Homo sapiens: one gene and its partners. The protein of the gene in region 3 interacts with the protein of the main gene of each other region in a biochemical or structural test. Each region holds a gene or a part of one and is shown on either strand. Other genes may lie near its edges.

The links.
Region 1: the proteins of PTGS2 (region 3) and COPS7A form a complex in vitro, tested with the Homo sapiens proteins (one study listed by BioGRID).
Region 2: the proteins of PTGS2 (region 3) and USP22 form a complex in vitro, tested with the Homo sapiens proteins (one study listed by BioGRID).
Region 4: the proteins of PTGS2 (region 3) and NUCB1 form a complex in vitro, tested with the Homo sapiens proteins (one study listed by BioGRID).

The regions. Positions count from the first base shown.
Region 1 is NC_000012.12:6,719,349-6,727,061, forward strand, and holds the start of COPS7A (COP9 signalosome complex subunit 7a), read left to right. Parts: upstream 1-4,697; 5' UTR 4,698-4,831; exon of another isoform or gene 4,832-4,902; intron 4,903-4,938; exon of another isoform or gene 4,939-5,265; 5' UTR 5,266-5,308; coding exon 5,309-5,470; intron 5,471-7,713.
Region 2 is NC_000017.11:21,040,002-21,047,264, forward strand, and holds the start of USP22 (ubiquitin carboxyl-terminal hydrolase 22), read right to left. Parts: upstream 3,011-7,263; 5' UTR 2,835-3,010; coding exon 2,664-2,834; intron 1-2,663. UniProt on the Homo sapiens protein: Deubiquitinase that plays a role in several cellular processes including transcriptional regulation, cell cycle progression or innate immunity.
Region 3 is NC_000001.11:186,677,406-186,684,702, forward strand, and holds the start of PTGS2 (prostaglandin G/H synthase 2 precursor), read right to left. Parts: upstream 3,019-7,297; 5' UTR 2,886-3,018; coding exon 2,834-2,885; intron 2,034-2,833; coding exon 1,917-2,033; intron 1,797-1,916; coding exon 1,653-1,796; intron 1,000-1,652; coding exon 856-999; intron 426-855; coding exon 244-425; intron 1-243. UniProt on the Homo sapiens protein: Dual cyclooxygenase and peroxidase in the biosynthesis pathway of prostanoids, a class of C20 oxylipins mainly derived from arachidonate ((5Z,8Z,11Z,14Z)-eicosatetraenoate, AA, C20:4(n-6)), with a particular role in the inflammatory response.
Region 4 is NC_000019.10:48,895,543-48,903,321, reverse strand, and holds the start of NUCB1 (nucleobindin-1 precursor), read right to left. Parts: upstream 3,011-7,779; 5' UTR 2,950-3,010; exon of another isoform or gene 2,664-2,949; intron 2,537-2,663; 5' UTR 2,526-2,536; coding exon 2,391-2,525; intron 1-2,390. Other genes in the region: TULP2 (tubby-related protein 2), read left to right, coding at 5,454-5,485, 5,926-5,977, 6,766-6,892. UniProt on the Homo sapiens protein: Major calcium-binding protein of the Golgi which may have a role in calcium homeostasis. Acts as a non-receptor guanine nucleotide exchange factor which binds to and activates alpha subunits of guanine nucleotide-binding proteins (G proteins).

The DNA of each region.
Region 1 (7,713 bases), on a different chromosome or scaffold from region 3:
AAAAGAGCCACCCTCCTCGGCCTCCCAAAGTGCTGGGATTATTTGCGTGAGCCACTGTGCCTGTCTTATGATGTCATTCTTGACTTTCTTTTCTTCTCATACCTCACATCTAATCAATTTGCAAATTCTGTTCACTTTAAGTTAAGTACAGAAACCAGGTCAGGTACTGTGGCTCATGCCTGTAATCCAGCACTTTGGGAGGCTGAGGCAGGTGGATCACCTGAGGTCAAGAGTTTGAGAACAGCCTGGGCAACATAGTGAAACCCCGTCTCTACTAAAAATACGAAAATTAGCCAGATGTGGTGGCACACACCTGTAGTCTCAGCTATTTGGGAGGCTGAGGCAGGAGAATCACTTGAACCCGTGAAGCAGAGGTTGCAGTGAGCTGAGATGGCACCACTGCGCTCCAGCTTGGGAGACAGAACGAGACTCCATCTCAAAAATAAATAAATATACGTACATACATACATACATACATAATCCAGCTATTTCTCTCTGCATCCGCCACTGATATCATGGTCTAAGTTATCACCGTCTCTTGCCTGCATCATTGCTGTGGCCTTCTAATTGGTCTAATTGGTTCTGCCCGTGTAGCCATTTTAATATGTTAAACGTGTGGGTCAGATGGTGTCACTCCTCTGCTCAAATCCTCCACTGGCCGTCCATCTCACTCTAAGCAAGAGCCAAAGTCCCTACAGTCGCCCATAAGACATGATCTGGACACCCTGCTCTCGCTCTACCTTGCCTCCTCTCCCCTTTCTCAATCAGGTCCAGCCACAAGGCCTCCTTGGTGCTCTTCAGACACATCTAGTATGTCCCCATCACGGGGCCTTTGCACTGGTAGTTTGCTCTGCTTGTGAAATTCCCATACAAATCCATCCAACTGGCTCCTTATCACCTTGTCAGGGAGGCCCTCCTAAGGACCTTAAATAACAAATGTCTCCTGCATTCCCCATCCCCCTTACCTTGTTTTTGTTTTTCTTCATATTTATCACCTTGTAATTATTTAAGGCCTGAATTCTACCACAAGAATACAAGTAGCAAGAAGGCAGGGATTTTGTCTACCTCTCCAGGAGCTAGAACAATAATATCTTTTGACTCAATGATAAATATTTTCTTACATGTTTGACTCTTTGGATGTCAGTCAGCTTTTCTAGCTTTATTTCAGTGCATCTTTTCTATAATTAGCATGAAAAACAGCACCTGGCACATACCCTTGTATATAACTGCCACTTAGTAACGAATGAATGAATGTTACCTCCAGGACTTTGCTTATATTTACTTAGTTCCCATCCTCTTCTTGGGACACCTTTATTTTTCTTCCCACTTTCTCCTCTTCTTTTCCCATTTCTACTCCTTTTTCTTATCTTTCTCACATTTCCTCCTGCTCCTCCTCTTCTCTCTCTAATCCTACTTCTTTAGTCCATTTCCTCTCCTGTCTTTCTCCAAACTCTCTTTTATCTCCTTACTCATTGTTCTCTCATATTCTCCTCTCACTCCTTTTTCTCCTATAGAACCATAAGACATCAGAACCCAAATTGGCCTTAACATCTAATCTCTCTTGGCGGATATGGAAGAGGAGATACCACAAAATGGCTTGATTTGCTTTAAGGTCACAGCTGGTTTAAGACCAAATCAGGAGTAAATCTCAGGTTATCTCTTTCTTTGTGCTCTCTTCTCTGTCGCTCTTTCCTTTCTGCTTTTTTCCTGCTTCTCTTTCTTTTTTTAAATGTTATTTATTTATTTATTTTTGAGACAGAATCTTGCTCTGTCACCCAGGCTGGAGTGCAATGGCACAATCTTGGCTCACTGCAACCTCTGCCTCCTGGATTCAAGAGATACTCCTGTTTCAGCCTTCCGAGGAGCTGGGATTACAGGCATGCGCCACCACACCCGGCTAATTTTTGTATTTTTGGTAGAGATGAGATTTTATCATGTTGGCCAGGCTGGTCTCAAACTCCTGATCTCAAGACCTCAAGTGAGCCACCTGCCTTGACCTCCCAAAGTGCTGGGATTACAAGCATGAGCCACTCTGTCTGGCTCATTTCTTTCTTTCTTTCTTTTTTTTTTTTTTTTTTTGAGACGGAGTCTTGCTCCGTTGCCCAGGCGGAAGTGCAGAGACAGGATCTTGGCTCACTGCAACCTCTGTCCCCTTCTCCTTCCTCAGGGTTCAAGCAATTCTCCTGCCTTAGCCTCCTGAGTAGCTCGGATTACAGGGGTCTGCCACCACGCTCTGCTAATTATTATTTTTTTAGTAGAGATGAGGTTTCACCATGTCGGCCAGTCTGGTCTCGAACTCCTGGCCTCAAGCGATCCGCCTACCTTAGCCTCCCAAAGTGCTGGGATTACAGTCCTGAGCCACCACGCCCAGCTCGCTTATCTTTCTCAATACAGTGTTGGAATCAGACAAACTTGCATTTAGATCTCAGTTTCATCACAGACCGGTAACCTTCAACAAACTATTTAACTTCTGTATTCCTAAGTGTCCTCACAGGTGAATTGAGACACTAATATGCACCTCATAGGGTTGCAAAGATCGAATAAAAATTTGAACAATCGGCCGGGTGCGGCGGCTCGCGCCTGTAATCCCAGCACTTTGGGAGACAGAGGCCGGTGGATCACGAGATCAGGAGATCGAGACCATCCTGGCTAGCATGGTGAAACCACAGCTCTACTAAAAATACAAAAATTAGCCGGGCATGGTGGCGCGTCCCTGTAATCCCAGCTACTTGGGAGGCTGAGGCAGGAGAACCGCTTGAACCTGGGAGGTGGAGGTTGCAATGAGCCGAGATTGTGCCGCTGCACTCCAGCCTGGGCCATAGAGCAAGACTGTCTCAAAAAAAAATAAATAAGATAAAAATTTGAACAATCGAGGCTGCAGTGAGCTGTGATCGCATCACTGCACGCCACCCTGGGCAACAGAGTGAAACCATGCCTCTAAAAAAAAAAAAAAAAAAAAAAAAAAAAAAGTAAAAAATGAACAAATAAAGCACTTGGCGCAAAATAGAACAAATACGGGTTATTTTCTCATCCCTTCATCTTACATGTTTTTCCCTTCTCTCTAAAAATGATAAGCTTGGCCGGGCGCAGTGGTTTACGCCTGTAATCCCAGCACTTTGGGAGTCTGAGGCGGGCGGATCACGAGGTCAGGAGATCGAGACCATCCTGGCTAACACGGTGAAACCCCGTCTCTACTAAAAATACAAAAATTAGCCGGGCGTAGTGGCGGGCGCCTGTAGTCCCAGCTATTCGGGAGGCTGAGGCCAGAGAATGGCGTGAACCCGGGAGGCGAAGCTTGCAGTGAGCCGAGATCGCGCCACTGCACTCCAGCCTGGGCGACAGAGCGAGACTCCGTCTCAAATTAAAAAAAAAAAAAAAAGATAAGCTTGGGGCGGGGAGGGGTGGATGCAAAATAATAATAATAATGTTTGGACTCATTAATTCCTTGCTTCCTTCAAACTCTGAATATTTTATTATGCCTTTGATTCCTTCTACTCACTTTTGTTTCACCTTTTCCATTCATTTCTTCTTCTCCTCTTCCTCCTTTCTCTTTCCTTTCTGTGTTTCTGCTTATTTTCTATCACAAACCAAAATATGCGGACCATAAACTGCATCTGCAGTTCCTTTAGCCCTAACAGACTACGAGTCCTATTTCTCTTTATCTTTCTCTTTTTCACTTTCTTGTCTTTCCATTACTTACAAGTTTCTTAATTTTCCTGAGTTCAGTTTTTCCATCTGGAAAGTGGAGATAACAATTACTAGATCGTTGTATCAGATGAATTAAGTAATGCTCATGGCTTAACACAAAGGCCAAGATGTCATTAACTTTACCCTCACTTGACCTTCTGCAAGCCTGTTGTGAAATATAAAACACTATAGAAATGTTAGTTGTTTTTGTTTTTATTAAAGTATCATATTGAAGTAGAAAGATGGTTTTGAGTTTGAAAAGCTCCAGATAAATCCTTGGATTTTTATGAGCCTCAATTTCCTTTTCTGTAAAATGAGAACCACATAGGGTTTTTTCCTCCCCAAGAAATTAAGAGTCCATGTACTGAAAGCATCATTCTACAAGTATTAATACATATGTAGTAATCATGGTAGAGGGTGTCCTGAAGTCACAGGGGAATATTTGTGAGGATTCAACGGAATAAAATTTTAAAAGATGTCTGACCAATAGTAAGCACTCAATACATGTTAGCTTTATTCTCTCTTTTATTTTTCTCGCTTCTTTTCTCCTGCTCTTCAAAAAAGTGAGTGGTTGAACCACCTAGGTGATCTCTGCTGCTAAACTTCTATTATTGATTTTTGTTTGCTTCCTCTCTGCCCCTTGTTTCCTCATCCCGTTTTTTTCCCTCTTCTTCACTCCTTCCGTTACAGCTTTTCTCTTGCCTCAGGTACCCAGTGCAGTCCTGATCTCCAGCTCTCCAGCGGCTTAGAACAGACACAGAATGGGCCGGGACCAGGGACCCACCAGAGACGTCTGTAGTTAATAGCTGGCGCTCTTCCACTAATAAAGTTTTATTGAAATAAAGCATTTAAAAAGGCGCCCGTCATTCTTCCCCCAGCGACCAATCGAAGAGTAGAATGCCTGCGTCCCTCACTGGAGCTTCAGCGGTCGGAACGCGGGGGTGGGGCATGTCCTGCCGAAATTTGCGTCCTTAGAGCGGAAGTACGGCCGGAAGCCCGCCATAGAGTTTAGTGGCCAGAGCGACTCTTCAGGGAGGTGGCAGGAAAGGCTTGGAACAGCTGCCGGAGGTGACGGAGCGGCGGCCCCGCCCGGTGCGCTGGAGGTCGAAGCTTCCAGGTAGCGGCCCGCAGAGCCTGACCCAGGGTACGACGAAGCAGTCGGCGGGAGCCCACGGTCGCTGGGCGGTGTCTTTAAGGGAGGGGGCGGAGCCACGTGTAAGCTTCAATGGGGGTGAGGTCACGTGGTTGTGGGCGCGTGCGGGGCAGCAATGGAGAGCTGAGGGAGCGTCGTCAGGGTGGACACCATGCGACACCCATTTCTCCTTTGCATCCTGTGTCTTGGGGTTCAATGGGGTGCACGTGATGGGGCTTGGGGTTAGGCCCAGGGGAGGGGGTGGGTGTGGCAGCCTTGCGAAGTGGCTGACTTTAGGATTCCTAGATCAGAATTTTAGACCGCTCCATGTCTGATTCCTCACCGCAGAACCGACTTAGTGCCTTTACAATCCAGTCCCTCAGCCTTGTGCTTCCCATCCGACCAGCCATCGGGGACCTCTAGCTTCACATCCTCTTTCCTTGCAGCTCTGGACATCCTGAGCCCAAGTCCCCCACACTCAGTGCAGTGATGAGTGCGGAAGTGAAGGTGACAGGGCAGAACCAGGAGCAATTTCTGCTCCTAGCCAAGTCGGCCAAGGGGGCAGCGCTGGCCACACTCATCCATCAGGTGCTGGAGGCCCCTGGTGTCTACGTGTTTGGAGAACTGCTGGACATGCCCAATGTTAGAGAGGTGGGTTGCTGGCTTGAATAGCCCTCAGAGAAGCGTGGGCAAAGGTTTGAATTTGAGAATGGGTGGGCAGGGCTCATTTTGTGATCCAATAACCATTCAGTTGAACAAGAAAACAGTGATAATTAAATGCCAACTTGCAGAAGTAACCAGTGAACAAGCAAACCAGCTCTCCTTTGGAGATAAGGGATCTGTAAAGCCCACTATTTTTCATTTTAAGCAAAAGAGCATCCTATTCAGAATAGGAAACCTGATTTCCAGCCGGTCTCCACCAGTGTAGTAGCTGTTAATTCTCATGTCACCTTGATCAGGTCACTTTTGTTTTAGGGCTTCAGCTTTCTCTTTTTTTTTTTTTTTTTGAGACGGAGTCTTGCTCTGTCACCCAGGCTGGAGTGCAGTGGCGTGATCTCAGCTGAGTGCAAGCTCTGCCTCCTGGGTTCACGCCATTCTCCTGCCTCAGCCTCCTCAGTAGCTGGGACTACAGGCGCCCGCCACCATGCCCGGCTAACTTTTTTGTATTTTTAGTAGAGATGGGATTTCACTGTGTTAGCCAGGATGATCTCGATCTCCTGACCTCGTGATCCGCCCGCCTTGACCTCCCAAGGTGCTGGGATTACAGGCTTGAGCCACCGCACCTAGCCAACTTTCTCTTTTAAAAATGGAGACAATACTGCCCCTCTCTGTTGTGGGAATAAAGTGAGATTATGGGAAAGTGTGAAGTCTGGTACAAGTGGAGAGTGAACATGTTAAATTAGCATGCCCTTTTCTTCCCTATGTGCAGCATATGCTAATCTATTCAAGTTAGCTAAGGGAGAACGTGTCTTTTTCCCAGAGACACATGGCAAACTGCTAGGAACACAGCAGAGAGAACCGTTCACACAAAAGTGGCAGAGTTAATTTACAATCAGAGGAGGCAGCCTGAGTCCTGACATGCTGACAGTGGTATGTGGGTAAACTGAGCTAAGTTATTTGGGGCCTGTGGTTTAACCTTTTGGATCACTCTGTGATATGGAGAAAACTGGCTGACTTTTCCCTGCTTTCATCTGCAGTGGAACTAAAGAGTATCAATCAAAGTGATGAAAAAGAAGCACTTGGCTGGGTGCGGTGGCTCATGCCTGTAATCCCAGCACTTTGGAAGGCCAAGGCAGGTGGATCACCTGAGGGCAGGAGGTGAAACCGATATGGCAGAATCCTGTCTCTGTTAAAAATACAAACAGGGCTGGGCACGGTGGCTCATGCCTGTAATCCCAGCACTTTGGGAGGCTGAGGTGGGCGGATCATGAGGTCAGGAGATGGAGACCATCCTGGCTAACATGGTGAAACCCCGTCTCTACTAAAAATACAAAAAATTAGCCGGGTGTGGTGGCGGGCGCCTGTAGTCCCAGCTGCTTGGAAGGGTGAGGCTGAGGTTGCAGTGAGTTGAGTTCGAGCCACTGCATTCCAGTCTGGGCGACAGAGCGAGACTCCATCTCAAAAAACAAGACAAAAACGAAAAACAGGGCCAGTCATGGTGGCTCATGCCTCTCATGCCTGTTCTCAGCACTTTGGGAGGCCGAGGTGGGTGGATCATGAGGTCAGGAGTTCAAGACCAGCCTGGCCAAGATGGCAAAACCCCGTCTCTGCTAAAAATACAAAAATTAGCCGGGCGCGGTGGCAGGCGCCTGTAATCCCAGCTACTCGGGAGGCTGAGGCAGGAGAATCACTTGAACCTGGGAGGCAGGAGGTTGCAGTGAGCCGAGATTGCACCACTGCATTCCAGCCTGGGCAACAGAGTGAGACTCTGTCTCAAAAAAAAAAATAAATAAATAAATAAAACAAACAAAAGCTCATGTATCCCAGAACTTAAAGTATAATTTAAAAAAAAAAAAAAGGGAGGCGGAGGTTGCAGTGAGCCGAGGTCGCGCCACTGCACTCCAGCCTGGGTGACAGTGTGAGACACCATCTCAAAGAAAAAGAAAAAGAAGCACTTATTAAGTGGCTCTTTACTACCCTTCTTATGGTCTGGGAATACAAGAAAAGCACCAGGCATGGAGCTTACCCTTCTGAAGCTTGCATTCCAGTTGAAGAGAGAAGATGAATGGATAGAAATCTGAATTATTTATTTATTTAGCAAGTATTTCTTGCGAGGCAATTACTGCATAGCTCTGTGGGATACCTGAGACTGGGTCTATAATCTTGTTGAAAGATATTCTTAGGTAGCAACCTTCTGCAAGGATTGATTGATTAAGTGCCAGAATGAAGCTGAG
Region 2 (7,263 bases), on a different chromosome or scaffold from region 3:
CAGCCTGTGCAATATAGTGAGACACTGTCTCTACAAATATTAGCCGGTCGTGGTGACACACGCCCGTAGTCCCAGCTACTCAGGAGAGGCTGGAGTCCAGGAATCTGAGGCTGCAGTGATCACTGACCAGACCATTGCACTCCATCCTGGGTAACAGAGCAAGACTCTGTCTCTACAAAAAATAATTTTTAATAAAATAAAATTTAAAAAACAAAATGTCCTAAGCTTACAGATCTGATGGAAATCCTATGCAGATTGTCCAACTGTTAATCATCAGGTTTGTTAAACTATTTCCCAAACCAACTCTTCCTTAACTGGGCCACTAGAGAGTGCTAGAAATGCAGGACACCGCACATGAAGTGATACAGGTAAATAAGTCCCCCCAGTCAGAGGAAAAAGCATGGAGGGCTTAAGGGCTCCTTGCTGGCACACTGCCAACTGGCACTGCAGCAGCCCCCACCTAAATTTTGAAAGAAATATTTTTCACTACCCGACTACAGTTCAACTTCTAATTGGTGAATAACATACATGTGGCTCAACAGTTTTGAAACTAAGCAACTGACATCTGAAATTAAAAGATTAATCAGAGCCATAAGTAGCGCAAAAAAAAAAAGTAATTCTTAACTTTAGGAAATTAGGCAAAGTTAGTTAATGATGGTTTAAACTTGACTCCTTCTATTTGGTTAAAAAATACCAGAGGGGGGAAGAAAGGGAGAGGGAGGGAGGGAACGGAAAAAGAAAAGGAGGGAGAGGAAGAGTGGGGCGGTCCCCACTTCATCCAAAGTAGTAACAAATCTTGGGCGCGTCACGTCCCAATCCGGACACTACTGACCCAGAGTAGCAACAGCACATTCCCTGTAGAAGACTGGCTTCAACCAGGCCACCCTTTTTTTTTTTTTTCCGGAGGGGGTCTTGCTCTGTCACCCAGTCTGGAGTACAGTGGCGCGATCACTGCTCACTGCAACCTCCGCCTCCCGGGTTGAAGTGATTCTCCTGCCTCAACCTCTGGAGTAGCTGGGATTACAGGCGCCCGCCATCACACCCGGCTACTTTTCGTATTTTTAGTAGAGATGAGGTTTCACCATGTTGGCCAGGCTGGTCTCGAACTCCTGACCTCGTGATCTGCCCCCCTCGGCCTCCCCACGTGCTGGGATTACAGGCGTCAGCCACCGCGCCAAGCCAGGCCATCTTTTCTTAAAGACACACAATTCTACTAGCAAGACTCTAACTCCGATCCTGAAACGTTTTATGTCTGATTTTAGTTCATCCAGACATAACGCTACCTGATACCATTACAGATAAAAAAAATTTTGAGGCCGGGCACGGTGGCTCATGCCTGTAATCCCAACACTTTGGGAGGCAGAGGCGGGTGGATCACCTGAGATCAGGAGTTCCAGACCAGCCTGGCCAACATGGTGAAACCCCGTCTCTACTAAAAATACAAAAATTAGCCGGGCGTGGTAGCAGGAGCCTGTAATCCCAGCTACTCAGGAGGCTGAGGCAGGAGAATCGGCTGAACCCGGGAGGCGGAGATTGTAGTGAGCCGAAATCGCGCCACTGCACTCCAGCCTGGGGTACAAAGCGAGACTTCGTCTCAAAAAAATAATTTTTTTTTTGAATTACTGCTTAACATACCCTACAATCTCAGCGAGCCTGTTGGTATTCCCATAAATAAAAAAATGCCACTCAAGGTGGAAACTGCCCTCACAACTCCCAATCTCGGATTGTAATCTACAAAAGCGCGTGAAACTGTAAAAATAAACTTTATTCACATAGAAGAATCACGTTACGTTTTGATTTCCAAACCCTTACCAAGCCTAACTGCGGGACGCAAGACTGGGCTCCCCGAGGGGACTCACTCCTGGTTAAGGCCTCCCACAGCCCACGGCGCGCTTCCAAGTCTACTCCTCAGCCGCAACGCAAACCCGGGCTGTGGCTCCGCACCCACAGGCTCGCCCCGGCCCCAGCCCCTGCCGCCCTCCACCTCCAGCTCCTCGCGGGCCCCGAGGCAGCCGCGAAGCTCCGGCCCCGCGCCCCCCAGCCCGCCTCCTGCCCCAGCTCCCGTCCAAGGTCGCTCCTGGCGGCGGGTGACCGCTGCAGACCAACGCCCAGAACTCGACAGCCCCCCATCCTTTACTCATTTTTTTGAAATATTTCTTTCTCTGCACCCGCATCCAGCCCCGAACCCTCCAGAACCAGGAGAGTTCCCCGCAAGGACCTCGCGCAGGAACGCCCGGGACCGCCCACCGAAGTCCCAGGCTCCCCAGGCAGCAGGGCAGGAGAACACCACCCCCGGCCCGGAAGCACTCGCCCCTCCCGGGCCAAGAAGGATAAGGGAGGGGGAGGGCGGAGAGAAAGGAGGGGGAGGGGACAGAGAGGAGGGGGAGGGGACAGAGAGGAGGGGGAGGGAAAGGAAGAATGGGGGAAGGGGGGAGAGGGGAAGGATAGGAAGATGAGGAGATAAGGGAAGGGAGAGAGTTGAGGGGGGAAGGAAAGGAGGGGGAAGGGGTAAAGAGAAGAGAGGGCAGAAGGAGAGAGGAAGAGGAAGGACAGGGAAAGGCAACGGGGGAAGGGAAGAGGGCAGGAAAAGGGCCCCTCCGCCGGCCGGCCTCAGGAGCGGCAGAAGGCCCCGAGCCCGCCGCGCGGTGGGCTGCCGGGCGCACCTTGCGCTTGCGGGCCTCAGCCGTGCCGCTCCACACGAAGCACTGGTAGATGGCCCGCAGGTTCTGCTTCCAGTTGTCCACCTTGAAGCTGCCCAGGTGCGAGCAGCCCGGCGGCGCTACCGCCAGCTCGGCGTCCATGGCCTCGCCCTCGGGCTCTGGCCGGGACACCATGGGGGGCAAGGCCCGGCCGCGCGCGGGGGGCGGCGGCGAGGGAGGCGAGGACGACGCCAGCGCGGCGTGGGGGCTGCTCGGCGGCTGGCCAGGCTGGCCAAGGCCCGGGCGCCGAGAACAAAGCGCGGAGGCCGGACAAAGATGGGGCTGCGCGATCGCCGAGGGGAGGCTGCAAGGCAGGCACCGCCCCCGAGCTGCGGCTGCTGCGGACCGCCTGCGCTGCGCTCTCGCGGTTCGCGGAGGGTGTCGCGGGGCGGGGCGCCGCGGCCGCGGACGGAGATTACGTCACCCCCCCCCCCCCTCCCGGCCGGCACCGCACTGCGCAGTCTCCAGCCCGCGCCAGGCCCTTCCCCCACACTCGCGCGCCCGTTAGGCTCTGGGTAGACCCGCGCCCGAGGAAGCGTGGTAGGGGGGGGAAGCTAACGAGGGCCCGCCCCTCCCCTTCCTTTATTGGTAGTAGGCCACCCCCCCCCCCCCCCCGGCACCTTCGGCTATTGTCATAGGCTCTCAGTATAGTCCGTCTGGTACAGAGCCGCCTCCCGGGACCCTGGCGGCTAGACGTTCCCTGTCTCTTCCAGAGGACTGGGGAGGCGGGGGCGTGCTGCGGTTGGGCGGCGCGAGACGTCAGTCCTAGCACTGAACCGGTTTGCGCCGGCCTGAGCTCTGCCGCAAAGAGGCGGGGCGATGAGCTGGAGCGCCGCAGGTCGGGCCTCCATCCAGGGCCTGCGCTTTCCCACCCAAAAGCACCCCCTAATCGGGAGCTGTTTGCAGGGCCCCCGGTTGCCGTAACCTGGCTCGGGCCCTGCAGTGCCGTGGCCCGGGGCTGGAACTGCCTGCCAACTGCCTGGTAGGCGCTGCCCCCGGCCGCAAGCTGGGGCGCCTCCTGTCGGGAGCCCGCTGATAGTGAGGGCCAACCCGGCGCCATCCAGTTTAAAGAGGCATCTGCGCGCCACACGCCTGACACTTCACATTTGCTAGTGGCTACATTTTTCTAATGAAAAAAGAAAGTTACAGTAATATATCTCAACCCAATAAAGTCAAATTATTTCAGCATGTAGGCAGTATTGCAAAATCGTTAGTGGAATGTTTTACAGTTTTTGCAGCAAGTCTTGGAAATCTGGTATTTACACTTAAAGCACATCCAATTCCTACTAGCTGCTACCGCAGTGGGCGGCACAGGTCTAATCGGTATACAAATAACTGACCCAAGGCAAACTGAGAAGACATTTAAAGACGAATGCAAACGAAGTTCTGGGGGAACCAGGGCGCCAAGGGTCTGGGGGAACTTGGATAAGGTGTCAGGTGTGGAGCTGCTCCCCTGTACTCATCCCGCTGCTAACTGCTTTGCTCATTCATTCATCCACAGATTGCAGGAAACAGCAATTGCCGTCCAGAACCATCACAAGTTAAAAAATAAAGATTGTGATCTCACAACACTTAAAGCTACAGGGTTTAATGGACTGACGACTGGGATAAAGCTTTTGTGGCCAAGACAAATTGCCGAGCACAGGTTTTTGCCTCATGGCCTTCGTGCTTGCAGTACCCTCTCCCTAAAATGCTTTCCCTACCCCCTCACCCTCTGCATCCTTATATTCCATGTCTGATGCTCGCTCACCTCCTTCCAGCTTTATCACACACCTCCTTTTCCGTGAAAAGGAAAATTGCCACCCTAATGAAAATTGCAAGCCCCCCAAAATTCTCCATTCCCTTACCCTGCTTTGTTTTTCTCCAAAGAATTTATCACTATCTGGCGTAATGAATATTTACTTATTTTTTTTATTGTCTCTTCCCTTAATAGCATGAAAAATTACGAGAGGGTAATCTTTTTTTTTTATTTTTTATTTTTGAGACAGAGTCTCGCTCTGTTGCCCAAGGCTGGAGTACAGTGGTGCAATTTCGGCTCACTGAAACCTCCGCCTCCCAGATTCAAGCGATTCTCCTGCCTCAGCCTCCCCAGTAGCTGATATTACAGGCGCCTGCCACCACGCCGCTAATTTTTGTATTTTTAGTAGAGAGGGGCTTTCACCATGTTGATCTGGAACTTTTACTAGAAATGGGGTTTCGTCAGGCTGGTTTTGAACTTCTGACAGCAAGTGGTCCACCAGCCTCGGCCTCCCACAGTGCTGGGCTTATAGGCGTGAGCCACTGCGCCTGGCCTCCAAGAGGGTAATGATATTGTGTGTTTTATGTACTACTACAGCCGCAAGTTCCCAGAACTGTATTGGCTACATGCAGGTACTCGGAATTACCCGGTGAAGCCCTATAGTAGTCCCAGCTACTCCAGAGGCTACGGCAAGAGGATCGCAGAGCCCAGGAGGTCAAGGCTGCAGTGAGCTGTGATTGTGCCACTACACTCTAGCCTGGGCAACAAAGCAAGACCCCATCTCTAAACAAAACAAAACCCTGCCGAATTAATTAACCCGAAACACATTTACAGAAAAATCTAACGAGACCATTTCTAGAATAAAACACTTGTTAAGGAAAACCATGTTTATGTTAGAGGAAAGAATGTCAGCTTACAAAAAACTAAAATCCTAACTAGTAAGTCAGGAATTACAAAAATATGTGATCCATCTCTATAAATATTGATGTAAGGAGTTTTCTCATATTGTTGGGCTTATACAAATATGATTTGGCTTCACAAATGTGCACTTAGCATTCAGGCCCTAATATTTATTATCTTTTTTTTTATCAATACGATCATCTAAGCACAGAAGAATATCTGTGCTGTCCACTTGAATCAATTATAATGATTTAAATGTTCCATAATCAGAACAACCTTAGTGATTTTAAAAAATTTAAACTACAGAATATACTCTTGAGAAGCAGTCCCCAAAAGATGTATGGATGAAGTGCTTTTTTTCTAATGGGAAACAAATGGAAACGTTAATGACGATTAATAGGAGAATCATTGAATAAATGATGGACTAGCCATTCTAGGGAATAGTACACAGCTATTAAAAAGAATGAAGTCCAGCTTGGGCAATGTGATGAAACCCTATCTCTACAAAGAAATTAAAAAAAAAAAAAAAAAGCCAGTTGTGGTGGTGCACGCCTATAGTCCCAGCTACCCAGCAGGCTGAGGCGGGAGGATTGTTTGAGCATAGGAGGTCGAGGCTGCAATGAGCCCTGATCATGCCAGTGATTCCAGCCTGGGCAACAGAGAAAAAAAAAACTAGATCTGTAAGTACTAGTACAAAAAGTCATAAAACATAAATGAATACAACAAATTGCAGAAAATTACAGAAAATATGCTGACGTTTGTAGGAAAATAATGGAAGGCCTGGAAGAAAGAAACACACCCATCAATAACAGTAACTTCTGGAAAGGAAAAGGTAGATGTGACTTAATCTGTAATGTTTGAATGTTTTCTTACAATGAAAATTAATATATTCCTTTGTATTTAAAAATCACTAAAACTTAAAAAGAAATGACAAAGTGTCATGGTACGAGGGAACACACTGTTCTACAACATGTAGAAAACAGTGGCCCACATGTTCAGTATATGCATTTATTCATGTATCCAAGAATCAAGTCAGATTGCTAAATTACAGTCAGGCTCTGCCACCTACTATCTGTGTAACCTTGGGCGGATTGCCTAAATTTCTCAGCCTGTTCACTTATCTGTTAAAATTGGGAGAATATCAGCTCTGTGCTTACGTTGAAGTGTATGGCAAGGAATAAATGAGATAATCCATACAAAACTCTTAGCAAGTGCCTGTTGTTAATAAGGGCTCAAGAAACATTAGCAGTTATTGATCTGATAGTTGCTGGCAATTGAGATGATTACAACAATTTCTTGCTTCAAGAATCCCAGGAGGATGGGAGAGGAGAATTTTTTTTTTTTTAATTTAAAAAAAAAAAGGCCGGGCATGGTGGCTCACGCCTGTAATCCCAGCACTTTGGGAGGCCGAGGCGGGCGGATCACAAGGTCAGGAGATCAAGACTATCCTGGCTAACATGGCGAAACCCCGTCTCTACTAAAAATACAAAAAATTAGCTGGATGTGATGGCACCATTGTAGTCCCAGCTACTCAGAAAATCGCTTGAACCCGGGAGGTGGAGGTTGCAGTGAGCCAAGATTGCACCACTGCACTCCAACCTGGGCGACAGAGCAAGACTCTGTCTCAAAAAAGAAAGCCAGGTGGCCTATGCCTGTAATCCCAGCACCTTGGGAGGCCAAGGTGGGTGGATCACTGAAGGTCAGGAGTTCAAGACCAGCATGGCCAACATGGTGAAACCCCATTTCTACTAAAAATACAAAAATTAGCCAGGCGTGGTGGTGCATGCCTGTCATTGTAGCTACTTGGGAGGCTGAGGCAGGAGGATCACTTAAATCTGGGAGGTGGAGGTTGCAGTGAGCCAAGATCGCGCCACTGCACTCCAGCCTTGGTGATACAGTGAGACGGTGTCTTAAAAAAAAAAAAGA
Region 3 (7,297 bases):
ACCTGTACATATGTATGTGTGTGAATGTTTATATATGTGTGTGCATGTCTGTGTGTGTGTATAATTTTACTAGACCAGTGAAGTAAATGGAAAATTCCTTTAAGGTTTTTATAGATAAGACTTCTTTTTAAAAAAAGTGGATAAGTTATTTGGATCTATCTATCTGTATATCTCCTTTAATGTTAGCCCTTGACTATGATTTGGTATAATTTTACTAACTCTAAGATATTAACTCTATCTTACCCCATGGCCCAGCCCGTTGGTGAAAGCTGGCCCTCGCTTATGATCTGTCTTGAAAAACTGATGCGTGAAGTGCTGGGCAAAGAATGCAAACATCATGTTTGAGCCCTGGGGATCAGGGATGAACTTTCTTCTTAGAAGCAATTTTTCCACAATCTCATTTGAATCAGGAAGCTGCTTTTTACCTGAAAAATGAGAAAGCTAAGGTAAGAATCCATCTATGTATTCAAGAAAGGAGATGGTGACTGTCAATCTACCAAGAATTCTTCATTTATATGAGAATTACAATTGTGAATAGGATCATAATATAAACAACAGTTCTAAGATATGGTGGAACAACTTCTTACTGAATGATTTTATCTATTTTAATTAGAATTATTTCATTTCTAAAGAAATAATTTGAAAATATTAAGACATTATACCAAGACGCTCATTTGCTTTTACATAATAGTTTATATAGACTCATACTTTAAAAAATACCCATAGATAACCATGCTAAAAGTAAAAACTGCTTTTGTTAATAAATAAATGGTAGTCTAAGGTCAATTTTTTTTTTTGGCAGCAATGCAGCCCGTCTTATAGTTAATACATCTCTAATGGATTCTTCTTACTCACCTTTGACACCCAAGGGAGTCGGGCAATCATCAGGCACAGGAGGAAGGGCTCTAGTATAATAGGAGAGGTTAGAGAAGGCTTCCCAGCTTTTGTAGCCATAGTCAGCATTGTAAGTTGGTGGACTGTCAATCAAATGTGATCTGGCTGAAATTTTCAAAGAAAAAAATGTTTTATTTATTCTCATTTGTTAAGTAAATCAACCATTATTTTTATTGTAAAATGTGGAAAGTGGCACCTGAGGTTGAATGTAACTCCAAAATAAAAAAAATCTATTTTTAAACAACTACACTTTATAGTCTAATGGCCACTTGAAATACATCTTTAATAAAATACATATACTCTGCACATTATAATCTGGCAATATTGATTTTTCAGGTAGCCATCTGCTCACTATCCAAGAGGCCTATGAAAGGAATGGCTGAGTATGGCACCCACTTTAGAATCATGGAAAGTTATTTTCTTGCTGATCCAAATCCAAATTTATTTTAATGGGTGCTACATGTTCAGAACAATTCTGTGGCCCATGGGCATTCAATAAACAGCTGGACCATGCTACCTCCACAAACTGACCAAACAGTAAAGGTTAGAAGAGGTATACAGAGTTGTGAGCAGACTGTATAAACTGGATGGGACTAAATGTCAATATTTTTGGCGATTAAGATGGAAGGCAAACTTAAAAGCTATCTTAAAGTCTTTTTGATAAGCTTGGAAATATGTTTTTAGATTAGGCTTACAGTATTATAAAGCATATTTTTCTTTGAGAAGGCTAAAAACCTTAGAAAGACACTTGTACTTACATGTCAACACATAACTCATAATTGCATTTCGAAGGAAGGGAATGTTATTCACAACGTTCCAAAATCCCTTGAAGTGGGTAAGTATGTAGTGCACTGTGTTTGGAGTGGGTTTCAGAAATAATTTTATTCTTGTCAAAAATTCCGCTGCAAGAAGACGAAGAAAGGGAGGGAGAAATTAATGGGACTCATTATAAGACACAAATCTATACAATGATAACTGTATCCAGCCCCACTCCTAATGAGGCAACCAAAGGACAAACTTACGTGTTGAGCAGTTTTCTCCATAGAATCCTGTCCGGGTACAATCGCACTTATACTGGTCAAATCCCACACTCATACATACACCTCGGTTTTGACATGGGTGGGAACAGCAAGGATTTGCTGCAATTAAAGGACAGCAAATAAATCATTCTCTAGTGTCTTAATCTTAATTTAAACATTTAATTGTTTGACTATGAATCAACTTTACAATAATAAATTCAAGAAATATATAGGTAGTCATGGAAATACAATTTTTTAACCTGCCTTAGAATGGATAAAACGTAGAAATACCAATTTTCTATTCTAAATAAGGATAACAGCATATTCAACTTGGTACATCATGTTACTAAGCTTTTCTTAGTTAACTCTTTAGATGTTAAAATTAGCATTTTTAAGAAGTTCAAATAAGTAGCACTTCACTTTCCAAATTAAAATGGATCTAGTACACTAATCAACATTTAGGGAAAAATTCAAAGTAAAACAGCTTACTTTTAAGACATTTTGCTTATCTTAAAACATAATCCGGGCTTTCCTGGGAGCAGGAAAGAACTGACTAGAATATTTAAAACAACTTCTTCCACTCAATAAAAAGGTTCCAAATATAAACAATTCACATATATTGATCAGATCCTGTCTTATCATAATGACAACCTGCAAATTAGTATCATCTATCCCTATTTAGGAGGTGAGAGTGTCTCAGATCGGTTAAGTAACTGGCTCATAATGATCAGTGCTTGTGGGAAAGCTGGAATATCCACGGAGTTCTTTCGAACTCTAGCGGTCCAAGCTCTTTCCCAAGTCACGTAGCTTCTCTATTCGGAGAGAAGTCGGAGTACTGGGATAGACCCAGGAGGTCAGAGCGGAAACTCTGCCCGGGTGCGTGGAACCGGAGTCCCCGGTGCGCGGCGCCAGGTACTCACCTGTATGGCTGAGCGCCAGGACCGCGCACAGCAGCAGGGCGCGGGCGAGCATCGCAGCGGCGGGCAGGGCGCGGCGCGGGGGTAGGCTTTGCTGTCTGAGGGCGTCTGGCTGTGGAGCTGAAGGAGGCGCTGCTGAGGAGTTCCTGGACGTGCTCCTGACGCTCACTGCAAGTCGTATGACAATTGGTCGCTAACCGAGAGAACCTTCCTTTTTATAAGACTGAAAACCAAGCCCATGTGACGAAATGACTGTTTCTTTCCGCCTTTTCGTACCCCCCACAAATTTTTCCCTCCTCTCCCCTTAAAAAAATTGCGTAAGCCCGGTGGGGGCAGGGTTTTTTACCCACGGAAATGAGAAAATCGGAAACCCAGGAAGCTGCCCCAATTTGGGAGCAGAGGGGGTAGTCCCCACTCTCCTGTCTGATCCCTCCCTCTCCTCCCCGAGTTCCACCGCCCCAGGCGCACAGGTTTCCGCCAGATGTCTTTTCTTCTTCGCAGTCTTTGCCCGAGCGCTTCCGAGAGCCAGTTCTGGACTGATCGCCTTGGATGGGATACCGGGGGAGGGCAGAAGGACACTTGGCTTCCTCTCCAGGAATCTGAGCGGCCCTGAGGTCCGGGGGCGCAGGGAATCCCCTCTCCCGCCGCCGCCGCCGTGTCTGGTCTGTACGTCTTTAGAGGGTCGAGGAAGTCACGTCGGGACAGACTGGGGCGAGTAAGGTTAAGAAAGGCTGACATGTTTTATGTTTTAGTGACGACGCTTAATAGGCTGTATATCTGCTCTATATGCAGCACATACATACATAGCTTTTTAAAAAACTCTTATTTTGTGGAATGAAATAGCTACCTTCAGTGTACATAGCTGTAATTTATCTTTGTAGCTAAGTTGCTTTCAACAGAAGAAATACTGTTCTCCGTACCTTCACCCCCTCCTTGTTTCTTGGAAAGAGAGGCGGGAAAGGTAAATTCTCCTCATAATACTGGTCCTAAGCAGTTACCCTGTAAATAGTTAATGTGAGCTCCACGGGTCACCAATATAAAGTTTCCTGCCTTCTGATGGACAAAGGAAGCGGCGATGGCCAGAATTTGCAGGGACGCTAAATGTCCAAAACGTATGCCTTAAGGCATTTCTCTCCCTGATGCGTGGATTATTTTGGTTACTAGCCCTTCATAGGAGATACTGGTAAAATAAATTCGAGTTTTAAAGTTCACTCTTTTGTCTTTTCTGTCCACTTTTCCAAGATTATGAGTTGTGACCATGGATCAAAGTACAACATAGCATTTACTTTTCAGTTGCCTGGGCTTATTGGGGCTAATTTTCTATTCTCGTTTTGGAACATAGTTGGATGAGGAATTAATTAGATGGAAGGGAGATTTTGACAGTTGGAATTTCATCTTTGCTTTTGTTTAACATCTATCATGGGTAGTGCTCAGGGAGGAGCATGTGAGGGTGAGATACTAAAAAATATATATATGTATATGTGTGTGTGTATATATACATATATATATACACACACACCAGAAAAGAAGTGGAAAATAGAAAATTCAGTTATGTCCTAAGTCCTTAGCATTACAGGAAAATGACAGCATAAAACCTGAAATAAAACTACACCAGGTACCTCAATTTGTAGAAGTCTTATAAGAAAAAAATAAATAAGAGACTCACTTGGAGGTTTTTTTTTTAACTGTTTTGCTTAGTGTACACATCTGATTCTTCATGAGACACGGATGACTAAAATTCCATCTCATCTAGGAAGCCTTTCTCCTCCTCTAGTCATATTTCATCATTCCATTTATGGCACTCCTATTTATTGCATGGAATCTTACATGAAATTTCAACTAAGAGCGTGGATCATTTTCTTTTTGATAATTTAATAATTTCAATCTTCTGTTTCATTTTAAAGGAGTAGGTTGCATCTACTGAAATTTGAAGTTTATAGTTAGAGCTACTAATGTTAGTTTGGGTTAGAAGCCATGTTAGAATCCATACTGTGAGAGAGTACTAAAATTTTACATTACAATCCTGAATTCATTTTGAAGTGATCATCATCATTGTCTTCCTTATCAGACATTAATTGTTCTGTTGTCTGAAAAGAGATTTGGATACAAAAGTGAGGGAAAAACAGGGCATAAGGAATAATTATATTTAGATTATTTTAAACTCAAAGGAATTGAACTCCATCTATCCCATAGTGGAAATTCTGTCACTTATATAGCAGGATAGAGTGAAGAGTTCCATGTACTTGGAAAGTCAAAAAAAAAAGTTCAAGGAGAATCTGGGACTTTAAGGATGGGCAGAGTTTTAGAAAGAAGTGCAAATCTGAGCATAAGGAAAAAAGTTACATAATTTATTAAATAACTGACAATTCTGAGACAATAAAATAAAACGGATAGGTACATTTGGGATGCTGGTCATGGGAGTGTATTAAATGTGCCAAACTAAATTAAGACCACTAAACCTGTTTTATATGGAAAAGTACTGTGACTATTGTGTACCATAAAAAAAAGGTTTGATCATGTAAAACTTATAGCTCTCATGTTTGCATATATTCAATGTTTCTGTGTCTATTTTAGGCAAATATATGGATCTGTTGTACAAAATTTCTATTAGCGTCTGAAATTTGTTGGGAAATAATCTACATGAAAAGAAAATAAGGAAGAATCTTAAAAATCTTCCAGAGCTTTCTGTTGAGTTTTACTGCCCCCTTCTGCTGCTTGAAATTTTGTCAACTTTTTTCCTAAGATGCTAGGAAGATTGCCAGACAGATTTTGTGTTTAATTTTATAATGTTCTAAACATTCACATGTTGCACTGTTCATTTCAGATTTGTTTCATGAATATGTTGAAAAGAAATGAAATATTTATTAATTGAAGTGATAAGCCATTCATGTGAGTTAAAAGAAAATGAACAATAAAGACTCTTAATGTCCAAAATTCCAAATAAACTAACTTTTTTTTCCCTTCCTTGTACTTTGAGCAGGGTTCTACTACTCATACATACAGATCCATTATCTCAGGCAAGGGTCCTCTTTCTATTTCCCTCGTTTCTTCTTTGGTGGGTTTAGTGGTTCACTTAGAGAGTGGAGATCACCCCTTGTCTTCTTTCTTTCATGGCATGTTGGCTGAAAAAAGAGCTTTGTGTCAGGGTTATTCTTAGTATACTTTGGCAAGGTTATGCCATGAAGTTTATCTCTTCCTTGAGTAGCAGAAATGTTACTTACAGAAGATCTTTACGTTAGTCCTTTAGTAAAGCCTGATTATTTACCCATTCTTAGCTACACAAGAAGTTTTGAGGCTATAAACGAAAGCACATAATTTGTTAAATTAAGAAAAGTCCTTTCACATAAGTCAATGAAGAAACACTTAAAAAATCTATTTCTAAGTTTTATAAAACACTGATCTCCTTTCTTTTTCTCAAATATCTCAATTCTTTGATGGATTTTTCTTTTACTTCATTTTTTTTTGTGATTGTTCATTATAATACTCAGATGAGCCAAAGTAGTTGAATGAGTTGAACACAGTCTTTGTATTGGACCTAGAAATCTCACAAGGGGACAAGGAAGGGAAAGAGAGTGTGAGGTGGGGGCACTGGAGCAGGCAGGATGTGAACATACCCACGCACAGAATATGAGGCTTAGGACTTTCAGTTTCTGATCTGGCATGTCAGGGAGGAGCTTGGAAATTGTCACTTCATCCTAAAAACAAGTAAAAATCTAAGCAAACTGAAAAATCAACACTCTCAGAACTGTCAGAGAAGTGAGGCGACAGGTCATAACCCTACTTAAAAAATTTGAAAGACAGACCATACAAGAAGAACAACTTACTGGAGCAGAAATGCACAGGCAGAAACCTCCATGAAAACCAGTACCTGGGTAGGAAAACCTGAACTGTAATTGATGAATTTCTGGAGGTTCAGTGCAGATAAGTCTGCAAAGGAAAAATTCTGGAAGACTCCCACACTTTTGTGAGTTTTGCTTCCTGGAGCTCTACGAGGTTCTCGCAGTGAATATCAGAGAAAACTCCCCCTCAGCTCCATCAGAGTATAGTGTTCTTAATAAGGCCTATACTCAAGAGAAATTATTTTATAATATTAGAGCCTAAACTGTCGGGATTTTTGTCGCAGCCTAACTGAATTAGAAGAAGGAAAATATCCAAATTTAACTGCCTCTAGCTTTCCATACAGGGGAAGAAAAATACCCAACTCCAGCCCTCTCTTTAGCTTCTACATTGGAGAAGGGAAATACCCAATTCTAGCCCCCCCCCAGTGATCTTGTCCCACTTAAGGACAGGAAAAGAGTGGAATGAAAAGCACTTGTTGAAAGTCACCGTTCATAGGCACAGGCTCACTAAAAGGCCGAGACCTGCTATAGGACTATAGAATGCTTCACTTCCCCTGAACTCTTATCGTCACATTACAATGTATTGAGTTTCTTTCACTCAGTACATCATGCCTGGCTTTCAACAAAA
Region 4 (7,779 bases), on a different chromosome or scaffold from region 3:
TATGCCAGGCACTGTGAACAACACAGACAAAAGTCCCAGGCCTCCTAGTCCCACCCCCGTCATGCGTAGCTGGGTGGGACTTTACTCTCCCTGGGCCTTCTATGCTCTTACTATTTATAAAATAGGCAATATATCCTCTGCCTCCCAGAGTTGTGGTGAAAAGCAAATAAGATAAGTTGGAAAAAATAAATAAATAAAATTACAAAAGAGAGAAGGCCAGGCATGGTAGCTCATGCCTGTAATCCCAGTGCTTTGGGAGGCTGAGGTAGGAGGATCACTTGAGCCCAGGAGTTCAAGGCTGCAGTGAGGTATGATCCTGCCACTGCGCTTCAGCCTGGGCACCAGCACAAGACCCTGTCTATTAAACATATATATATATATATACATTCTTTACCTCTTTACCTAGTCTCACAAGATCCCACATGATCCACATAATCCCCCTCTCCCCTCCCTCTCACTCTCCCTGCTCCAGCCACAGCAGCCTCCTTGACGTCCTCAACTTGCTCTGCTTTCTCCTACCAAGTGGCCTTTGCTCATGCTGTTCCCTCTGCCTGGAATGCTCTTCCCCTCACTTCCTCTCTTCCTTGCTCTTGACTTAACATATCTCTCCAGTTCAGAACTCAGTGGCTCACACCTATTATCCCAGCACTTTGGGAGGCCGAGGCGGGCAAATCACTTGAACTCAGGAGTTCGAGACTAGCCTGGGCAGTATAATGACACCCTGTCTCTATCAAAAATACAAAAAAAATTAGCTAGGCATGGTGGCACATGCCTGCAGTCCCAGCTACTCCAGAGGCTGAGGCAGGAGGATCGCTTGAGTCTGGGAGATGGAGATTGCAGTGATTGCACCACTGCACTCCAGCTTGGGTGACACAGCAAAAATAAAAAAAAAAAAAAAAAAGAAAAAGGAAAAGAAAAAATGAGGTGGCTCATGCCTGTAATCCCACCACTTTGGGAGGCCGAGGCAGGCAGATCAAGAGGTCAAGAGATCGAGACCATCCTGGCCAACATGGTGAAACTCCGTCTCTACTAAAAATACAAAAATTAGATGGGCGTGGTGGTGTGCGCCTGTAGTCCCAGCTACTCGGGAGGCTGAGGCAGGAGAATCACCTGAACCTGGGAGGCAGAGGTTGCAGTGAGCCAAGATTGCACCACTGCACTCCAGCCTGGTGACAGAGCGAGAAAGAAAGAAAGAACTCAACTCACGCCTCCCTTCCTCCCTGACTGTCACCCCTGGTGTTCACTCTCATAGAGCCCTGCCCTTTGTCTTCCATCTCCCAGTGAGCAGGGATAGTCCATGGGCATGGGGCATGCACATGGCTGGGCCCTAACAACTATGCAACACATAGGCAACACTATGCCCGGCTCATAGAAGGTGCTCAGGAAACATGTGGAATGGAAGAAAAGAAATGGGACTCAACAAAGCCTTCCTGGGTCTGCAAGGATTTCACAGAATAGAGGCCTAACTTGCAGCGTGGGGACCAGGAACATGCAATGATCCGTTCCAGGGGGTAATGACTAGCCCATTCTTTGTTTTTTGAGACAGTCTCAGAAAACAGAGTCTCAGCTCTGTTGCCCAGGCTGGAGTGCAATGGCGTGACCTTGGCTCACTGCAACCTCCACCTCTCTTGGTTCCAGCACGAGAATTCGTGCCTCAGCCTCCCAGAGTAGCTGGGATTATAGGCGTGAGCCACCACGCCCAGCTAATTTCTGCATTTTTGGTAGAGATGGGGTTTTGCCATGTTGGCCAGGCTGGTCTTGAACTCCTGACCTCAAGTGATCCGCCTGTCTCGGCCTCCCAAAGTGCTAGGATTACAGGCATGAGCCACTGCGCCTGGCCTGACCAGCCTATCCTTATGGGGAGCTATAGGAAGATTCGGACCACAAGACACTCACTGACCTTCAGGATCTCCAAAGTTCCAAATCCCTTAAGACCAAAGCTTTTATTGGGTTTGATAAACACATGTAGGAATTAATAAACAAGCAGTTCACCCGCCCTTCTGTAATTTAAACTACAACTCCCAAGAGCACCATGAAGTCAGAATACCCCAGCTAGCCAACATCAACTGCTACTGGGAACTAGCAACATGGTGCTACTGGGAAATGTAGTTTTGTTTGTTTGTTTTCAAATTCCTTCTTGGGTGGAGAGAATCTTAAAAAAACAGACGTTTAGTTGGGGCGTGATGCAGATTTTCCACACCTCAGAGTCAGGGACCTCCAGTTTTTCACCAAGTCAAACCCCTGCTGCTGGGAGGAATGGTGGGCAAAAAACAAGCTACAACTGTAGGGCCAGGAAGTCACTGGAGCATCCGCCCTACGGGCACCGGGGTCTGCAGGAGCTGTAGTACCACTGCAAACACCTGGCTGGATAGCAGGGCAGGGCCACTCACGGGACTCTCAGTCGCAGGGGTCTCCTCCTTGTTGGGCGCCCCTCGCTCCAGGGGGACAGCCAGCACGGCGCGAAGCAGGAGCAGCAGCAGCAGCGGCAACAGAAGGAGGGTTCCTCGGGGCCCAGAGGGAGGCATGGCAGTGTGGTCTGTGGGGGATGGAGGGCTGGATAATGCATAATGTCTGTCCCAAGCCTCTTCCTCCCCTGGAACCAGGAGTTCGGGCCCCCAGCGCCGCCCCCACTTCCAAGAATCAAGACACAAGCATTTTGTTACCCAGGCCCCAGGATTCCAGGCCTCCGGCCTTCCCTTCCTCCGACACAGGAGTCTGGGCCCTCAGACCCAGGGGTCCTGGCTCCCAACACGCTCCTCTCTCACACTCAGGAATCCGGGATCTCGGCCGCCTCCTCCCCCAGACCCAAGAGTCCAGGGTCCCAGCCTCCTCTTTTCCCAGGACCTAAAGTACTGGCACCCAGTGCATCCTCCTCCGGGACCCAGTTTTCCAGCCCTCTGGCCCCCATCCTCCCTAGGACCCAAGAGTATGGGAACCCTGGCCTCTCACCTCTCCTTCACCGCAGAGGGCGTTTTCCAGGGCGGGCAAGGACCTCCGGTGCGTTCTTGGTGACTTCCCCCCTAGACCACGCCCACTTATCCACAGAGGCCCCGCCCCAAAGAGGTCTGATTGGTCCACGCTGGCTCTGTAGCTTTCATCCACGTCCAGCGGCCCCGCCCCTTGCCGAAGCCGCTCGCATTTTCGTGAAAGCCTCGCTTCTTTCTCGGAATCCCAGCCTCTTGACGCCACATTTCCCGCCTATGCCAAAAGAGAGAGAAGGCTTTCAAAGATAACTACAACTCCCTGCCGGCCGGGGGAAAAATAACTTCCGCGGGCATCGTGGCCCCTTCGCCTCATGGGAGCTGTAGTTTTCCCATTTATTTTCGCCCCACGAAGTGCCTGGAAGTTATAGCGCGGTAGCAATTGCATAGCCTTTCTTATGAGTTTCTTTCTTCTTCTTCTTATTATTCGAGACAGGGTTTGCTCTGTCACCCAGGTTGGAGTGCAGTGGCGCAATCACTTCTCACTGCAGCCTCTACCTCCCAGGCCCAAGCAATCCTCCCGCGTCAGCCTCCCAAGTAGATGGGACCACAGGCCACACTACCATGCCTGGCTAATGTATATTTTTTAAATTTTTAATACAAATATTTAAATCTTTAATTCTTTTTTAGCCTTTTTTTTTTTTTAACGTTCTGTCTTTCACACTTCTCACACTTTGTTGTTGTTGTTTTTTAAAGAGACGGATGTCAAGCCGGGCTTGGGGGTTCACTCCTGTAATCCCAGCACTTTGGGAGGCTGAGGCAGGCAGATCACCTGAGGTCAAGGGTTTGAGACCAGCCTGGCCAACATGGAGAAACCTCGCCTCCACTAAAAATACAAATTAGCCAGGCGTGGTTGCGCATGCCTGTAATCCCAGCTACTCAGGAAGCTGAGGCAGGACAATCTCTTAAACCCGGGAGGCGGAGGTTGCAGTGAGCCGAGATCGCGCCACTGCACTCCAGCCTGGGCGACAGAGTGAGACTACGTCTCAAAAAAAAAAAAAAATCTCTGTGTTGCTGGTCTGGATCTGGATCTCCTGGACTCAAGCAATCTTGCCTCCCCGTCTCCGCCTCCCAAAGTGCTGGGATTACAGGCGTGAGCCACTGCGCCCCGCCTCTTTTAAGTTTCTTGTAAGCGAGATGTGTACAGTGAGGCCGCGAGGTCTCTGGTCTCCCGCTCTCTCTCTCTCTTTTTTTTTTTTTTTTTGAGACGGTGTCTACCTCTGTCACACAGGCTGGAGTGCAGTGGCGCGATCTCAGCTCACTGCGAGCTCCGCCTCCCGGGTTCACGCCATTCTCCTGCCTCAGCCTCCCGAGTAGCTGGGACTACAGGCGCCCGCCCGCCACAACGCCCGGCTAATTTTTTTGTGTATATATATATATTTTTTTTTAGTAGAGACGGGGATTCACCATGTTAGCCAGGATGGTCTAGATCTCCTGACCCCGTGATCCGCCCGCCTCGGCCTCCCAAAGTGCTGGGATTACAGGCGTGAGCCACCGCGCCGGGCCGGTCTCTGGTCTCTTTAAGGAACCCCCACACGGCATTCGTGTTCAGAACCCCCGGAGCAGGGTTGCCTGGCTGCATCAGTGACCGAGTTCGTTACTTTGTTGGAAGTGGAGAGTGGAGGGTCAGAAGGGAGTGGACCAGTTCAGGTCCCAGAGGGAATCCTCCCTCCCTCTGAGCCGTCTTTCTTCTCCTCCCTATTTCGCAGATATCCCGAGATTAGGTCCCCAGCTTCCAAAGAGAGGATCAGGTATGTTTAGAGATTGGCCAGAGAGGCAAGGTACCGAGGCATCAATGTGAGCAGCCTCTCCAGGCACCTGGTGAGGAGAACAAGTCTCCCGGATCCCAGGCAGGTGGGCAGTGGAGTTCTAGGCCGCTGGGGGCTGGGTGTTTGAAGTGCACAGTCCTGAGTTCTGATGCCTGGGTGCTGGAGAATTAGATATTTGGGGGAGAGAGAAGCGGACTTGCGGACCCCCGTGGGAAGCTGGAAACAGGCTACTAGATCCCGACAGGAGTGGGTGCTGGGATTCGGGCTGCCTGGGTCCGGAAGCAAATTTAAAGGTAAGGATCAGGCCGGGCACTGTGGCTCATGCCTGTAATCCTAGCACTTTGGAAGGCCAAGGCGGGCAGATCACCTGAGGTCAGGAGTCCGGCACCAGCCTGGCCAACATAGTGAAAACCGGTATCTACTAAAATACAAAAAAATTAGGCAGAATAGCGGACGCCTGTAGTCCCAGCTACTCGGGAGGCTGAGGCAGGAGAATCGCTTGAACCCAGGAGGTGGAGGTTGCAGTGGCCGAGATGGCGCCACTGCACTGCAGCCTGGGCGACAGAGCGAGGCTCAGCTGTCTCTAAATACATAAATAAATAAATAAATAAATAAATAAATAAGGCTAAAGATTAGGTGCTGGTGGGCAGGATCCATTGGGATGTTGGTTCTGATCCTGACTCCTCATTCTTGCTTCTGCAGAATGTCTCAGGATAATGACACATTGATGAGAGAGTGAGTAGGGAAACAGATGGGTAGGGGTGGAGGTGGAAAGGGCTGGGGACCCCGTGCACTCGGCTCTGGCTTCATAACCATGTTTGCAGGTTCAGCACCATCGGCCTTGCAGGAAGGGGCTGGGGACCTGGACTCCTGTGTCCTGAAGGGATGGGGCTAGGGTGCAGACTTCTGGGTCTGAAAGAGAAGGGGTTGGGGGCCCCAGACTCCTGAATCCTGAGACAGGAGGGACCTGGGATCTCTGGGTCCCGGCTTCTGTGGGCCAGTGCCAGGAGAAAGGGCCCTATAACTGGTGGAGCAGGCTCAGGTTCTGCACCTCCTGTGACCTCACAGGTGCCCAGAACCCAAGCTGAGATAGGGGCAGGATGGGGGAAGGAGGGACTCTCTTGGGCAACCGAGGTTCCCTGTGCACTGTCACCATGGGCCTGTGTCTCTCTCAGCATCCTGGGGCATGAGCTCGCTGCTATGAGGCTGCAGAAGCTGGAACAGCAGGTATTGTGCCCAGGAATCTCACCACTCCAACTCTTCCGCCTTCTGTGCCTCCCCAGGGGCCTCTCCACCAGGTCTTGCTCTAGGACTCCCAGCCCGTGTTGGCTGTCTCTCATCCTTGAGTTTTCCCACTGAGAAATGAGAAAATAGGAATTTGGGGCCGGGCAGGGCAGCTCACGGCTGTAATCACAGCACTTTGGGATGCTGAGGTGGGCGGATCACTTGAGGTCAGGAGTTCAAGACAAGCCTGGCCAACACGGCGAAACCCCGTCTCTACTAACACACAAAAAATTAGCCAGGTGTGGTGGCAGGCGCCTGTAATCCCAGCTACTCGGGAGGCTGAGGCAGGAGAATCGTTTGAATCCGGGAGGCGGAGGCTGCAGTGAGCGGAGATCGTGGTACTGCACTCCAGCCTGGGCGATAGAGCCAGACTCTGTCTCAAAAAGAAAAAAAAAAAGTAAGAAAGGAAAAAGAAAAGAAAATAGGAATTGGGGGTTCTAAAGAAGCAAACAAACCCTTGTGATGAATTTCTAAGGAACAAGGCTTCTAGAAGGCAGGACTCCTGGGTCCTGGGGGATGAGAGGACAGGGTGTCAGGACTCTTGGATCTGAGTCCAACGGTGGAATAAGGGAGGAGCTGCTGAAGAACTGAGGGCCTGGACGTGTGGGCCCCAGTGGAGGAAGGGGTTCACGAACTCTCGCGCCGATGCGAGCCCTTGCCCCAGGCCCCACCTCACTTCTGTCTTCCCATCTGGTTCCTGTCCCGGACACCCACCTCTCCCATCTCCCCAGCGGCGGCTGTTTGAAAAGAAGCAGCGACAGAAGCGCCAGGAGCTCCTCATGGTTCAGGCCAATCCTGACGCTTCCCCGTGGCTTTGGCGCTCTTGTCTGCGGGAGGAGCGCCTTTTAGGTGACAGAGGTGACCAAAGACCCCTGGGGGCGTTCGCCTGGAGGGGAGGGGCCTGTGGGAGTCTGTGGGCGGGGCCTAGTGGATGAAGGGGTGGAGCCTTAGGGTGGGGACTTGGCAGTGGATGGGGGCGGGCCTTGGCCCAGGAGAGCTTTAGAACAGGGCCTGTGGGCGCCCAGGGGAGAGGCTTGTGGGGGCCCCCCGCGGCAGGACCTGTGAGGGAGGGGTTCGGGGCAGGGCTACAGAGCGCAGGGGCGGGGCATGGTACAACTAGCAGGGGAAAGGGGCAAGAGAATGTGATGATTGGGCTTGGCAGAGCTCGGTGGTGGAGCCTGGGAAAGCCGGGACCCCCACCCCAAACCCGGGATTGCGGAGACGGGGTCTAGGGGTCCGGGGCGGGGCGCGGTCTCATTACGAGAGCCTGGCGCGAGATTCTTTACGTGCGGAGCCCGCAACAATCCAGCGGCAGGGCTGTGCTTGTTTGAGGCTTAGGATGCAGTTTGGGACCTGGGTCTCAAGGTTTGGGCGGTCCGCGAAACAGGGTGATTTTTTTTTCTTTTTTGAGACGGAGTTTAGCTCTTGTTGCCAAAGCTGGAGTACAATGGCAGGATATCGGCTCACCGCAACCTCCGTCTCCCGGGTTCAAGCGATTCTCCTGCCTCAGCCTCCCGAGTAGCTGTGATTACAGGCATGCGCCACCAAGCCCGGCTAATTTTGTGTTTTTAGTAGAGACGGTGTTTCTCCATGTTGGTCAGGCTGGTCTCGAACTCCCGACCTCAGGTGATCCGCCTGCCTCGGCCTCCCAAAGTGCTGGGATTACAGGCGTGAGCCACGGCGCCTGGCGGGGGTGATATTTGGGAGCCCAGTGACGGGGTGGATTTTGGTTGAGGACCGGAATT